2 linked regions of the Homo sapiens genome follow. The protein of the gene in region 2 interacts with the protein of the main gene of each other region in a pairwise test. Each region holds a gene or a part of one and is shown on either strand. Other genes may lie near its edges. The genes, in order: VSIG1 and HGFAC.

Region 1 (3,906 bases), on a different chromosome or scaffold from region 2:
TGTATCCTTCAGATCCAGAAGTTGGAATCATTGTTGGGGCCTTGATTGGTAGCCTGGTAGGTGCCGCCATCATCATCTCTGTTGTGTGCTTCGCAAGGAATAAGGCAAAAGCAAAGGCAAAAGAAAGAAATTCTAAGACCATCGCGGAACTTGAGTAAGCCTTCATTTTGTTGTCTTTACTTGAATACAAACATTTCTCAGGCATGTCTTTTTCAGTCATCAATTCCTAAGCACTCCTTTTAGTATAAGATATCAGAGGTATCTTTCTGTTTACTCTCATTGAATTTAAAAAAGAATGATGATGGCTGCTATTTATTGAGTGCTGTGTGCCAGGCTCTGTTCTAAGCACTTTATGTACATCAACTCATTTAGCTATCACAACAGTTTTAGGTCCAAGAAAACATTTTCATATATAATACTAACATACTTGTCTTAATACCAACATAGTCATGAAATATAATTTTAAATTTTTTTATGGAACAAGAGACCCACAAGGACAGTGCCCAGGGAACACAGAAGTTAGAATGTGGCCCAGCCCACAGCTCATGCTCTTAATCACTCTATTTCTTTCCTAGTGTGTATCTCACTCATTCATTTTTTTTCATCTCCTTGCTTCTACAACTATCTATTGGGTATCAACCAGGTGCCAAGTATTGTACTAGATGGAGTGAGAAATAGCGATACATCAGAGCTATGAATTTGGACCTTAAAGACCTTATTAGATTCTTAGACTCTTTCATTCTGACATTATTTTCCCACCTTGAAACACTGCTCTTTCTTAAACTTTCATGATATTGTTGAGACCTAACCTTTCTGAATCCAAAATGACCTATGGCCTGACAATGAGTCAGAATATCAGAAATAACAGATTTCCTGAAGTCTGGGACCTATGGTCATTGAAGCTACAGAACATATGGTTTCACATGAAATTTCAAAGTTAGCATCTCCCTAACTTGTTCTTTTCTGGGCCTTCTTTCTTGCAGGCCAATGACAAAGATAAACCCAAGGGGAGAAAGCGAAGCAATGCCAAGAGAAGACGCTACCCAACTAGAAGTAACTCTACCATCTTCCATTCATGAGACTGGCCCTGATACCATCCAAGAACCAGACTATGAGCCAAAGCCTACTCAGGAGCCTGCCCCAGAGCCTGCCCCAGGATCAGAGCCTATGGCAGTGCCTGACCTTGACATCGAGCTGGAGCTGGAGCCAGAAACGCAGTCGGAATTGGAGCCAGAGCCAGAGCCAGAGCCAGAGTCAGAGCCTGGGGTTGTAGTTGAGCCCTTAAGTGAAGATGAAAAGGGAGTGGTTAAGGCATAGGCTGGTGGCCTAAGTACAGCATTAATCATTAAGGAACCCATTACTGCCATTTGGAATTCAAATAACCTAACCAACCTCCACCTCCTCCTTCCATTTTGACCAACCTTCTTCTAACAAGGTGCTCATTCCTACTATGAATCCAGAATAAACACGCCAAGATAACAGCTAAATCAGCAAGGGTTCCTGTATTACCAATATAGAATACTAACAATTTTACTAACACGTAAGCATAACAAATGACAGGGCAAGTGATTTCTAACTTAGTTGAGTTTTGCAACAGTACCTGTGTTGTTATTTCAGAAAATATTATTTCTCTCTTTTTAACTACTCTTTTTTTTTATTTTAGACAGAGTCTTGCTCCGTCGCGCAGGCTGTGATCGTAGTGGTGCGATCTCGGCTCACTGCAACCTCCGCTCCCTGGGTTCAAGCGATTCTCCTGCCTGAGCCTCCTGAGTAGCTGGGACTACAGGCACGTGCCACCACGCCCGGCTAATTTTTTGTATTTTTAGTAGAGATGGGGTTTCACGTTGTTAGCCAGGATGGTCTCCATCTCCTGACCTCATGATCCGCCCACCTTGGCCTCCCAAAATGCTGGGATTACAGGCATGAGCCACTGCGCCCGGCCTCTTTTTAGCTACTCTTATGTTCCACATGCACATATGACAAGGTGGCATTAATTAGATTCAATATTATTTCTAGGAATAGTTCCTCATTCATTTTTATATTGACCACTAAGAAAATAATTCATCAGCATTATCTCATAGATTGGAAAATTTTCTCCAAATACAATAGAGGAGAATATGTAAAGGGTATACATTAATTGGTACGTAGCATTTAAAATCAGGTCTTATAATTAATGCTTCATTCCTCATATTAGATTTCCCAAGAAATCACCCTGGTATCCAATATCTGAGCATGGCAAATTTAAAAAATAACACAATTTCTTGCCTGTAACCCTAGCACTTTGGGAGGCCGAGGCAGGTGGATCACCTGAGGTCAGGAGTTCGAGACCAGCCTGGCCAACATGGCGAAACCCCTTCTCTACTAAAAATACAAAAATTAGCTGGGCGTGGTAGTGCATGCCTGTAATCCCAGCTACTTGGGAGGCTGAGGCAGGAGAATCGCTTGAACCCAGGAGGTGGAGGTTGCAGTGAGCCGAGATTGTGCCACTGCACTCCAACCTGGGTGACAGAGTGAGATTCCATCTGAAAAACAAAAACAAAAACAGAAAACAAACAAACAAAAAACAAAAAATCCCCACAACTTTGTCAAATAATGTACAGGCAAACACTTTCAAATATAATTTCCTTCAGTGAATACAAAATGTTGATATCATAGGTGATGTACAATTTAGTTTTGAATGAGTTATTATGTTATCACTGTGTCTGATGTTATCTACTTTGAAAGGCAGTCCAGAAAAGTGTTCTAAGTGAACTCTTAAGATCTATTTTAGATAATTTCAACTAATTAAATAACCTGTTTTACTGCCTGTACATTCCACATTAATAAAGCGATACCAATCTTATATGAATGCTAATATTACTAAAATGCACTGATATCACTTCTTCTTCCCCTGTTGAAAAGCTTTCTCATGATCATATTTCACCCACATCTCACCTTGAAGAAACTTACAGGTAGACTTACCTTTTCACTTGTGGAATTAATCATATTTAAATCTTACTTTAAGGCTCAATAAATAATACTCATAATGTCTCATTTTAGTGACTCCTAAGGCTAGTCCTTTTATAAACAACTTTTTCTGACATAGCATTTATGTATAATAAACCAGACATTTAAAGTGTACAATTTGATGAGTTTTGACAGAGCACATACCCATGAAACCACCACACCCATCTAGAGAGAAAACATTTCCATCAGCCCAAAATGTTTCTTCATGCCCCTTTGTGCGATCCCACCATTGCCCTGGACCTAGGAAATCACTCATTGTTTTCCATCACTAGAGGTTAACTTTGCCTTTTCTTGGCCCTCATACATATGGGATGATACAGTATGTACTTTTTGTGTCTCACTTCCTTCTAAGGTGAATCCTTTTTAAACAAAGTAGTGAGTTTCTCATTTATCACTTTCAGATTTTCATGTAAAATATTTTCTTAAACTGCAAACTCCTTTCTATATAAATCATAACCATACACAGATTGAGGTAGAGTCTCTGTAGGTTTTAAGGAGAGTTAAAATGGAAATTAACATTACACTTATCTAGAGCCATGGAGAGAAGAGATAGCAAGCGTTTATTTCTGCATTTTCTTCGATGCGTCCATTTTCAGAAAATGTCAGGGATTTCTGATGCATTTATAATTTCATTCATACTAAATATGATAGTATGGTATATGGTGTCTGATGGACACAAGAAGCAAAATAATGAAGGTCTTAAGAATGACCTAATATTTAGAGATTAAAAAGTAAACAACAGTGTAAACATCTCAATTACCAGAATGCCCAAGTAGCTGGAATTCATTTTTCCTTTCCATTTTTATTATAGAGGCAAATCGCAAGAGACTGACATGTAATAGTCAACAATTACACCCCAAAATTTTTGATGGATCAGTGCAGTCCAGGAAAGAAAGCACT
Region 2 (7,667 bases):
GGGAGCCGGGGGGCCTCTCCCCAGGACAAATCCTGCCTGCCCCGCATGCGGCGGCCTGGAGCGGCGTGGTGCTGACCGGCAGTAGGCATGGGGGCCCAGGCCCAGCAGGGCCGCGGCGCCCACGGAGTCCACGTGCAGCTCCTGGTAGAGCAGATCGGAGTTCCAGGCCAGGCAGCTGAGGCCCGAGGCTGAGGTGCTGGCCACGCCACGGTACCCAGTGCCGTTCCCCAAGAAGCAGCGCTCATCAGGCTCTGCGGGCAGAGGGGCAGTGAGGCCGGCCCACGGTGGGTCCACCCGGCACTGCCCCAGGGCACCCCGGGGGGCTGACCCACTCACCGATGTTGCAGAGCCGTCCAGCGAAGCCTGGTGGGCAGGCACACACGGTGGTCCCGGTGGCCACGATCAGGTGGCAGGTGCCCCCGTTCAGGCAAGGGCTGCTCAGACAAGCTGGGGGCAGGGCCGAGGAGCTGGGCCAGGGGCCGCGCAGTGCCCCACGACAGCGGAGTCGGGGCCGGGGTCCACCCCTTGTCCCTTGTTTCTGGGTGACCTCAGGCCATTCCTCCCACTCGGGTGTGGACAGGGACACCCGTCAGGGGTCAGTGGCACGGCTCACACCCCGTGGCGCACCTGTATGTCGGGTGCCTTCGCACCAGGTCCGGCCCCCGAAGCACTCGCACTGTTCCACGTGGCCCTGGCGCACGCGGGCCCAGCGGTCGCCCCCCTCCAGGTACTCGTAGCGGGTCTCATCAAAGCATTTCTCTGAGGGGTGCACAGTAAGCCCTCACACCCTGCCACCTGCTGTCCCCGTGCAGGGCCCCTGCCCTGCACTCGGGAGCCACCTGTTCTCCCATCCTCCGGGGACTTGCTCCGGCCCCTGGACCCCTGCGGACCTCCGAGGCCCAGCTCACCTGTGCCGCAGTCCTTGCCGGTGAAGGCCCGGGGGCAGCTGCAGTGATAGGACTGGGGGTCCTGGGTATTGGAGCAGGAGCCTCCATTGAGGCAGGGGCCGGAGGCACAGGGATCCAGGGCAGCTGGGGACATGCGGGAGGGGGTGTGAGGGGCGGACTGGGAGGCTCAGGGTCCCTCTGTGACATTCTCTGCTTGCTAAGGCGTCCATCAGGCCCCAGTGAGGGGCTCTGAGAGCAAAGGGGCCCTCTCTACGCCCCTCGGGGTGCAAGGTCCCTGGGAGGGGCACAGACCTCCCCTTCCTCCCAGCGTCCCCCACTCAACACCTGGGCCACTGGCCCAGCTGTGCACGTGGCTTCCTGGAAGCCTGACACCCACACTGTCAGGCAGCAGACCCCTCCCATGTGTCCCAGGACCCATGTGAGCAGGGCGGCTGGCACCGCACCCCACAGACCCTGCCCACCTGTCCCCTGCCTGGGGCACGCCTGTGTGGCTGCAGGGCCCGGCCTCACCACCAGGCGGCGCCTTGGCCCCAGCGATGGCCGCGCAGCCACCATGAGACGCAGGTCCCACCTGGGAGAGGCTCTGGCCCTAAGTGGCACCCACCGGGGTTAATCCCAGAGCTCCTCTTCTGCTCCCCTCCAGCCAGGACCCCTGCCCGGGTCCGCCCCATCCTCCCCTTGGCCCTTCTGGCCTGGCCCAGTGCCCCCTGCCCGCCCCAGGCTACCCAACCCAGCACCCACCTGGGCCCCCTGGAGGCGGGGTGGCCTCCACACAGTAGCCCCAGGCCCTGTCCCGGTCGTAGTTGTGAGTTGTGGCACACCTGGGGGGCGACACCTGCGTGCATGGGGGTCCCAGGCAGAGGCCCCCCACCCCACCCCACCACCCTGGAGGGTCTCTGGGTTCACTGGGTCCGCCTGCTGCGTGGTGAGCGCCTACTGTGTGCCCGGCTCCCAGAAAAGCAGGCAGCGTGGGGCAGGTGACCCCAGCTCGGGTGCCCCGGCTGCCCGGACCCACCACTTCCTGTGTGCACTGCCCTCCGAAGTGCAGGCATGCAGCATGCGGCCCCCGTAGCGGAAGGGGAACCTGCAGGGCCTCCCGTCCTCGGTGAGTGCTGTGGGGAGGGGGTGGCAGGGTCAGGGCTCCCTCGAGGGGCACCCGAGCCCCTCAGGACCTCCAGCCGCAGCCATGCTCCTCCCACCCAGCCCTAAGGTGAAGCACGACACCTCCTCCCAGGCCCACCTGACCCACCTTGGGCCTGGGGGCTACTGCTCGAGGGAACTGCCCTGGGCGGGGGCGGGAGCCCCCCACTTTGGGGTCCCTCTGCCTCTGGAGCACTTGTTGCTGGGGTCTCAGAGGTCACAGAGGTCACCAGGATAGTGGGGATCGCAGGGGTCGCTGTGGCATTAGGTTCTGGGGACTCCGTACGGTTCTAGGAGGAGCAGAAAGGGTGTCAGTGTGGGACAGACCCTCACACTCAGGTCCTGCCGGGCAGGAGGTCACAGCCCTGAGCCTGTTTCCATACTGGGGCCCCCAGATCTCGGAGCAGGTTCCAGGAGGACACACGACATTCCTGAGGCCTCAGCCAGGCCCTGACACCTTCCCCGCCCTCGGCCCCTAGTTAACACCTGCTCAGGGTCACTGCCCAGGCCCAGGCACTGCTACCCACCAAGCTTAAACCCTGACGTCAGTTTTTGGTGATGGGAGCAGCTAGGAGGCCCTGGGAGGTTCCCCCAACCTCACGCATCCAGACCCAACAGAGGTCCAGAGAGAGGGGGCAGCCCCCAGACCCATAGGGGCCCAGGCCAGGCCGCACAGGGATGACAGCCCCCAGGTGGGGCTCCGTGAGCCCAGGCCCCAGCCTCCAAGGCCAGTCCAGCACCCACCTGCCCTGTGAGGGCCAGCTTTCAACGTAAGCCCCCTGCTCGGACCCCCGCCCCCTCAAATCCCCACGCTCTGTGGCGACCCTCCCTCTGGCCTCCTCCCAAGGACCCCAAGTAGCCACTGGGAACCTCTGGTCGCACTGCGACAAGGTCAGTGCTCACCCCGCCAGGCTGGGGCTGGAACCCCCGTGGCAGCAGCAGCAGCAGCAGGAGGAGGAGGAGGAAGGGGCCCAGCCCCGGTGGGGGCCAGGGGCTGGGGACCCAGGCCCAGCGCCCCATGGCTCCTGAGCTGGCCTGAGGGGCAGTGGGAGGCGGGAGCAGAGCGGCCAAGGCAGGTGGGGTCAAGGCTTCGTGGAAATGATTAACCCTGGCTGCCTCCCACGTCAGGCGGGCCCAGCCGGAGAGGAAGTCCCCGAGTCCCCTGGCCCCCACACCTGCTGCCCACCTCACTTTGACCCTACCTGGAAGCCCAGCTGTCTCTCTGGCCTCGGCCTGCACTGGTCCTAGTCCTAGACCTGACATGGTCCTTGGGCCTCAGCTTAGAAGCCTCCTCCAGGAAGTCTTCCAGGATAATGCAGATAGGTTGGGGCCTAGATGGTCTGGCGCCGCTCCCAGTCCCTGCAGGCCACAGAGCTGGCCACCATCTGCCTGTGAATTGTCCATGATGAGAGCCACTACGGGCGCTGGGCCTTGGAGGTGTCCAGCTCTGTGCCCAGCACAGCACAGACAGTAGCAGTGGGGATGGGATTGTCCCTGTCCCACAGACGGCAGCACTGGGGGCTCCTGGAGGGTTCGGTGCTGCATCCTCTCGGTGGCCCCAGGGCTGGCCAAAAGGCCAGGCACAGGGAGGAGAGGGGCCACGCAATGGCTGAGTGTAGCATAGGATGACCTGAGATCCTGCCCCACCTGCCTGTTCTGACTCTGGGGGTGGCCAGGGCCCCCCAGCAGCCCCTGGTGATGTTCAGAGTGTCCCTTCCTCCCCGTCTCCCAGACAGACCCAGGAGTCCACTCCAAGAAGCCTTTCCAACCCCAGCTCCCCACCGCCGCCTGGATGGTACAGGCCAAGTCTGCGGCAGCACAACCCTGGGCCAGGTACCCTGGGGCCTGGGATGGAGCTGGAGTCACGGAATTCGTGACTTGGGGCTGTGGGCAGAGCTGCCTGAGGAACCTCTTCTGCAATATTGGAGCAGCCGCTACGGCACCTCGGGTTCCTCCTGAGTCAGCAGCGACATCCCAGGGCTGCCGAGGTGGGAGGAGGGGTGAGTGAACCACTGTGGCCTGGAGACCAGCGAGGGCTGAAGCTGCCTCCCTGTATCCCCTAAAACCCCTCTCTCTGCCCCCCATTTGCCTGTCTGTGCAGAGGGAGAGAGAATGGACACCCACTGACCACCCAGCTTGACACCGTGGGCCCCAGGGGGCACAGTGCACATGGAGGCGTGGTGGGCCCTGGGGGCACGGTGAATGGGGGGTTGGGGGTTGGGGGGGAGGTCATGGTGGGCCCTGGGGCACGGTGAATGGGGGGTTGGGGGTTGGGGGGGAGGTCATGGTGGGCCCTGGGGGCACGGTGAATGTGGAGGCATGGTGGGTGCTGGGGGCACGGTGAATGGGGGGTTGGGGGTTGGGGGGGAGGTCATGGTGGGCCCTGGGGGCACGGTGAATGTGGAGGCATGGTGGGTGCTGGGAGCAGGATGGATGCGGGCTTGTGGTGGGTGGTACACACAGCTGGCACTGGGCTTCATCTTCCATTCCGACCCCTCCCCCAGCCCCCTTCCTAGAGCACCACTAAGTGGGGTGCATCCACTCCCTGGAAGCTTCTAGAACAGCCCCAGGGGACTGGCTGTGCTCTCGGGCCTCTAGGATGGTCTGAGGAGCTCACCAACCACCCTGTACCGAGGGTACTTGGCTTTAGGGGTTCCATCAAGGCAACCTGGGGAATGGCCCTGCCTCTTCCGACTCAACCCAGCCCCCAAGGCCCCGGCCTCCCCTGCAGCCACACCTGGTTCCCTTTCTGTAATCAGACCCTCCTTAGCCCCAGGGCCTTGGCACAGGCCCAGGGCTCTTTCTAGACTTCCTCTGCCGTCCAGTTGCAGTTTACATGGTCCCTCCCCAGAAAGGCCCTCAGACCACCCTGCTAAACAAGGCTGGGGCAGGGTCCCCACGTGACGGCGAGAGCCAGTCTCTGCCATCTGGTCCTGGCCCTCAGGCCCCAGGAGCCAAGCTTCCCTCTCCTCAAAGCCCCCTTGACCTTACCCTGGGGCACTTCTCCTCCTCAGGCCCCTCTGTTTCCTGCATGACCTCCTGGGGATGTGCTCGGAGTCCCCGAGAACGAGGAGTCTGTGTCCCCAGCACCCAGCACCAGGCCGACGCTTGGGTCCTCAGAAATGCTTTATTGGGCAGCAGGAGGCCAGGGCCAGGGAGCCCCATGGCCAGCATGGCGAATGTCCGGGGCCAGTGCCTCCAGCGAGGTCACCCCCTGCCCTCCTGGCTGGGCTCCTGAGGGTGTGGTGGCCAGGGTGGCCCCCCTGAGGCCCACAGAATCCACCTGGGCTGCCCCACCCCGACATGTCCACAGGAGAGTTGGCCAGGCCAGGGCAGCTCAGACGAAGGTGGCGTGGTGAGCGCTGGTCTTGGGCTTAGCAGGCTCACCCGGGACGGGGCCCAAGCCAGGGAGGTCTGATGTAGGAGGCCCACCACTGGCCTGCGACCTCCCAGGGCCAGCCTGTGCCCCCGCTATGCCACCATCCCGCCCGGGCGCCGAGCCAGTTACAAGATCCACATCGATGATTCTGTTGACTGGGAGGTCTCGGCTGCCATGGGTCCCACTTCCTGTCACAAGGAGAAGAGAAGCTGTCACTTGCCTGGCCCGGCCCTGGGCCCCCGGAACCCACCCCCTACCCCGAAGGCCCCTGCACAGACAGCATGGTAGGGGTCCCTGAAATATCCCAAACACATCCCAGAGGCAGCTGGCGTCCCGCTGTGGGCCTCCAGGCTGGGGCAGGTACGCCCAGGGGAGGTGCAGTGTTCCCAGAGCCCTCCACATAACACCTGCCACCAAGTGGGGGAGCCGACCCACTCAGAAACCCTACCACCCTGCTTCCCCACTGCAGCTCAGGAACAGAGCTGGGCCCCCGGCAGAGCCCCCGCCCCAACTGCCCCCCTAATTCCTCCTGGGGGCGTCCTCAGGGGCCCCCCCAGGCCCAGGGCCCATCCTCAAGGGCCACCCCCAGGGGGCTGAGCACTAGGGTTCAGTTCCAGATAGGCTGGACCCTCTTGGCCTGGTGGAACGGGCCCTGAGCCCTGTGTCTGCTGCCCCATCCCACCCTGCCAGGCTGGCCACCTGCTCGCCCACCTGCCTCGCTGCCTCAGCACCGTCTTCACCGTACACACCCTGCTCTGGGCCTCCCGGTCGTGTCCCCTCCCCCTCCATCCCTGGCCCCCCTACTGAGGCCCCTCTTTCCGGCTGGTCAGTGACTCTTGCCCCACTTCTGGCTCCAATGCCCACTCCAGCCCCAGGAGATCCCGGCTGCCTGAACCGGCCTTGGAAGCTTCTAGACCCAACATGGGCAGGCCATCTCCTTGCCAGCACCCCCGGGAGGCCTCCCTACCCAGGGCGTCACTGCCCTGCCACATCTGGTGACCTCCACGTGGACCCCTGGAAGACACAGTTGTGTCTATGCCAGGGTGGAGTCCCCAGGGGCCAACGAAGGCTGGGGCCAAGGAAAGTGAACGGTGCACGCAGAATGGCTGGGTTCATGTGCCGCCCGGAGCTCCATGGCAGGACCCCAGGGCCTGGGAAGGGGCAGTGAAGCCCCCGTGCTGGGAGAGCCCAGCCCTTCCCGCCCACTGACCCCACCCCCCCATCTGTACGGTGGGGGTGACGTTGCCGACCCGCCCAGTGACCCCACCCCCCCATCTGTGCGGTGGGGGTGACGTTGCCGACCCAGAGGAGCAGGCTTCGGGGGCAGGTTCCTGCGTACCTAGCGTGTCTCCTAGGCAGGGGTCCAGGAGCTCCCTTCCTCAGTGAGCCTGGGGCTGAGGCCCTGAGACAGTCATGTCCATGCCAGGGTGGAGGCCTTGAGGCGCCTATGGGGTGGCAGGAGCCCCAGGCCTGGGCCCACAGCAGACAGGAGGCAGGAAGAGCCAGCCCCCGGCACATGAGAACCAGGGACAGGGGGTCCCTGCTACCAACTGCTGCCCTCCACAGGTGAATCGAAGGCCTGGGAAGGTGAAGACCCTCCTCGATCTACAGTTCTGAGGTCCCTGAAATGGCCGCAGGGTCCTTGCTGCCCCAGCGGCTCCGTGGCCACCAAGGTCCCCAATCCCAGCGTGCCCCTCCTCACCCTCAGTCCAAGCTTCCGGAAGCAGCCTCCATGAGGCATCTGTGAACAAGTCCGGGCTGCGGGCGGAAGGTGTGACTCCCCTCTTGAGCGTGCCCAGCCCGTTCTCTTGAACAGGTCCCAGCAGTGGCCCCAGAGGCCCTCATCCTGGCCTCGACGCAGCAGCCCAGCCAGCATGTGGGAGCTGTGTGGGGCCTGTGTGTCTTACTCAGCCAGGCCCGGTGGAGATGCCATCTGGAGGCCCAGGGGTCCATGTGGAGCAGCTGAGACTAGAAACTTCTCCCAGTCAGGCCTCTGCTCATTCAACAAGTGTCCTACTAGGTTCTGCCAGGGCTAGGAGCTAGCCCTGCCCCCAGGGGACAAGGGGACAGTTCTGCCCATCTCCTTCTTGTCACCAGGTCCGCATGGCTCCAGATGCCAGGCTGCAGGGCTGGGAGATATCGTGTGGGGAGAGGCAGGGGTTTGCCCCCTCTCGCCGGTCAATACCGTGGGCATTTGGGCATTTGCCTGGAGTGTTCATAGGGCTCTGAAGGGGCCTGCA

What was found.
Region 1: the proteins of HGFAC (region 2) and VSIG1 interact in binary tests that used the Homo sapiens proteins (3 or more experiments, as listed by UniProt).

Annotation. Positions count from the first base shown.
Region 1 is NC_000023.11:108,076,065-108,079,970, forward strand, and holds the end of VSIG1 (V-set and immunoglobulin domain-containing protein 1 isoform 2 precursor), read left to right. Parts: intron 1-12; coding exon 13-154; intron 155-983; coding exon 984-1,317; 3' UTR 1,318-3,120; downstream 3,121-3,906.
Region 2 is NC_000004.12:3,437,403-3,445,069, reverse strand, and holds the start of HGFAC (hepatocyte growth factor activator serine protease isoform 2 preproprotein), read right to left. Parts: upstream 3,103-7,667; 5' UTR 3,069-3,102; coding exon 2,952-3,068; intron 2,339-2,951; coding exon 2,158-2,338; intron 2,021-2,157; coding exon 1,924-2,020; intron 1,730-1,923; coding exon 1,650-1,729; intron 1,032-1,649; coding exon 909-1,031; intron 760-908; coding exon 628-759; intron 448-627; coding exon 337-447; intron 252-336; coding exon 77-251; intron 1-76. Other genes in the region: RGS12 (regulator of G-protein signaling 12), read right to left, coding at 5,386-5,615. UniProt on the Homo sapiens protein: Serine protease that hydrolyzes the inactive zymogen hepatocyte growth factor (HGFsc) to an activated disulfide-linked heterodimer, then initiating hepatocyte growth factor receptor signaling pathway.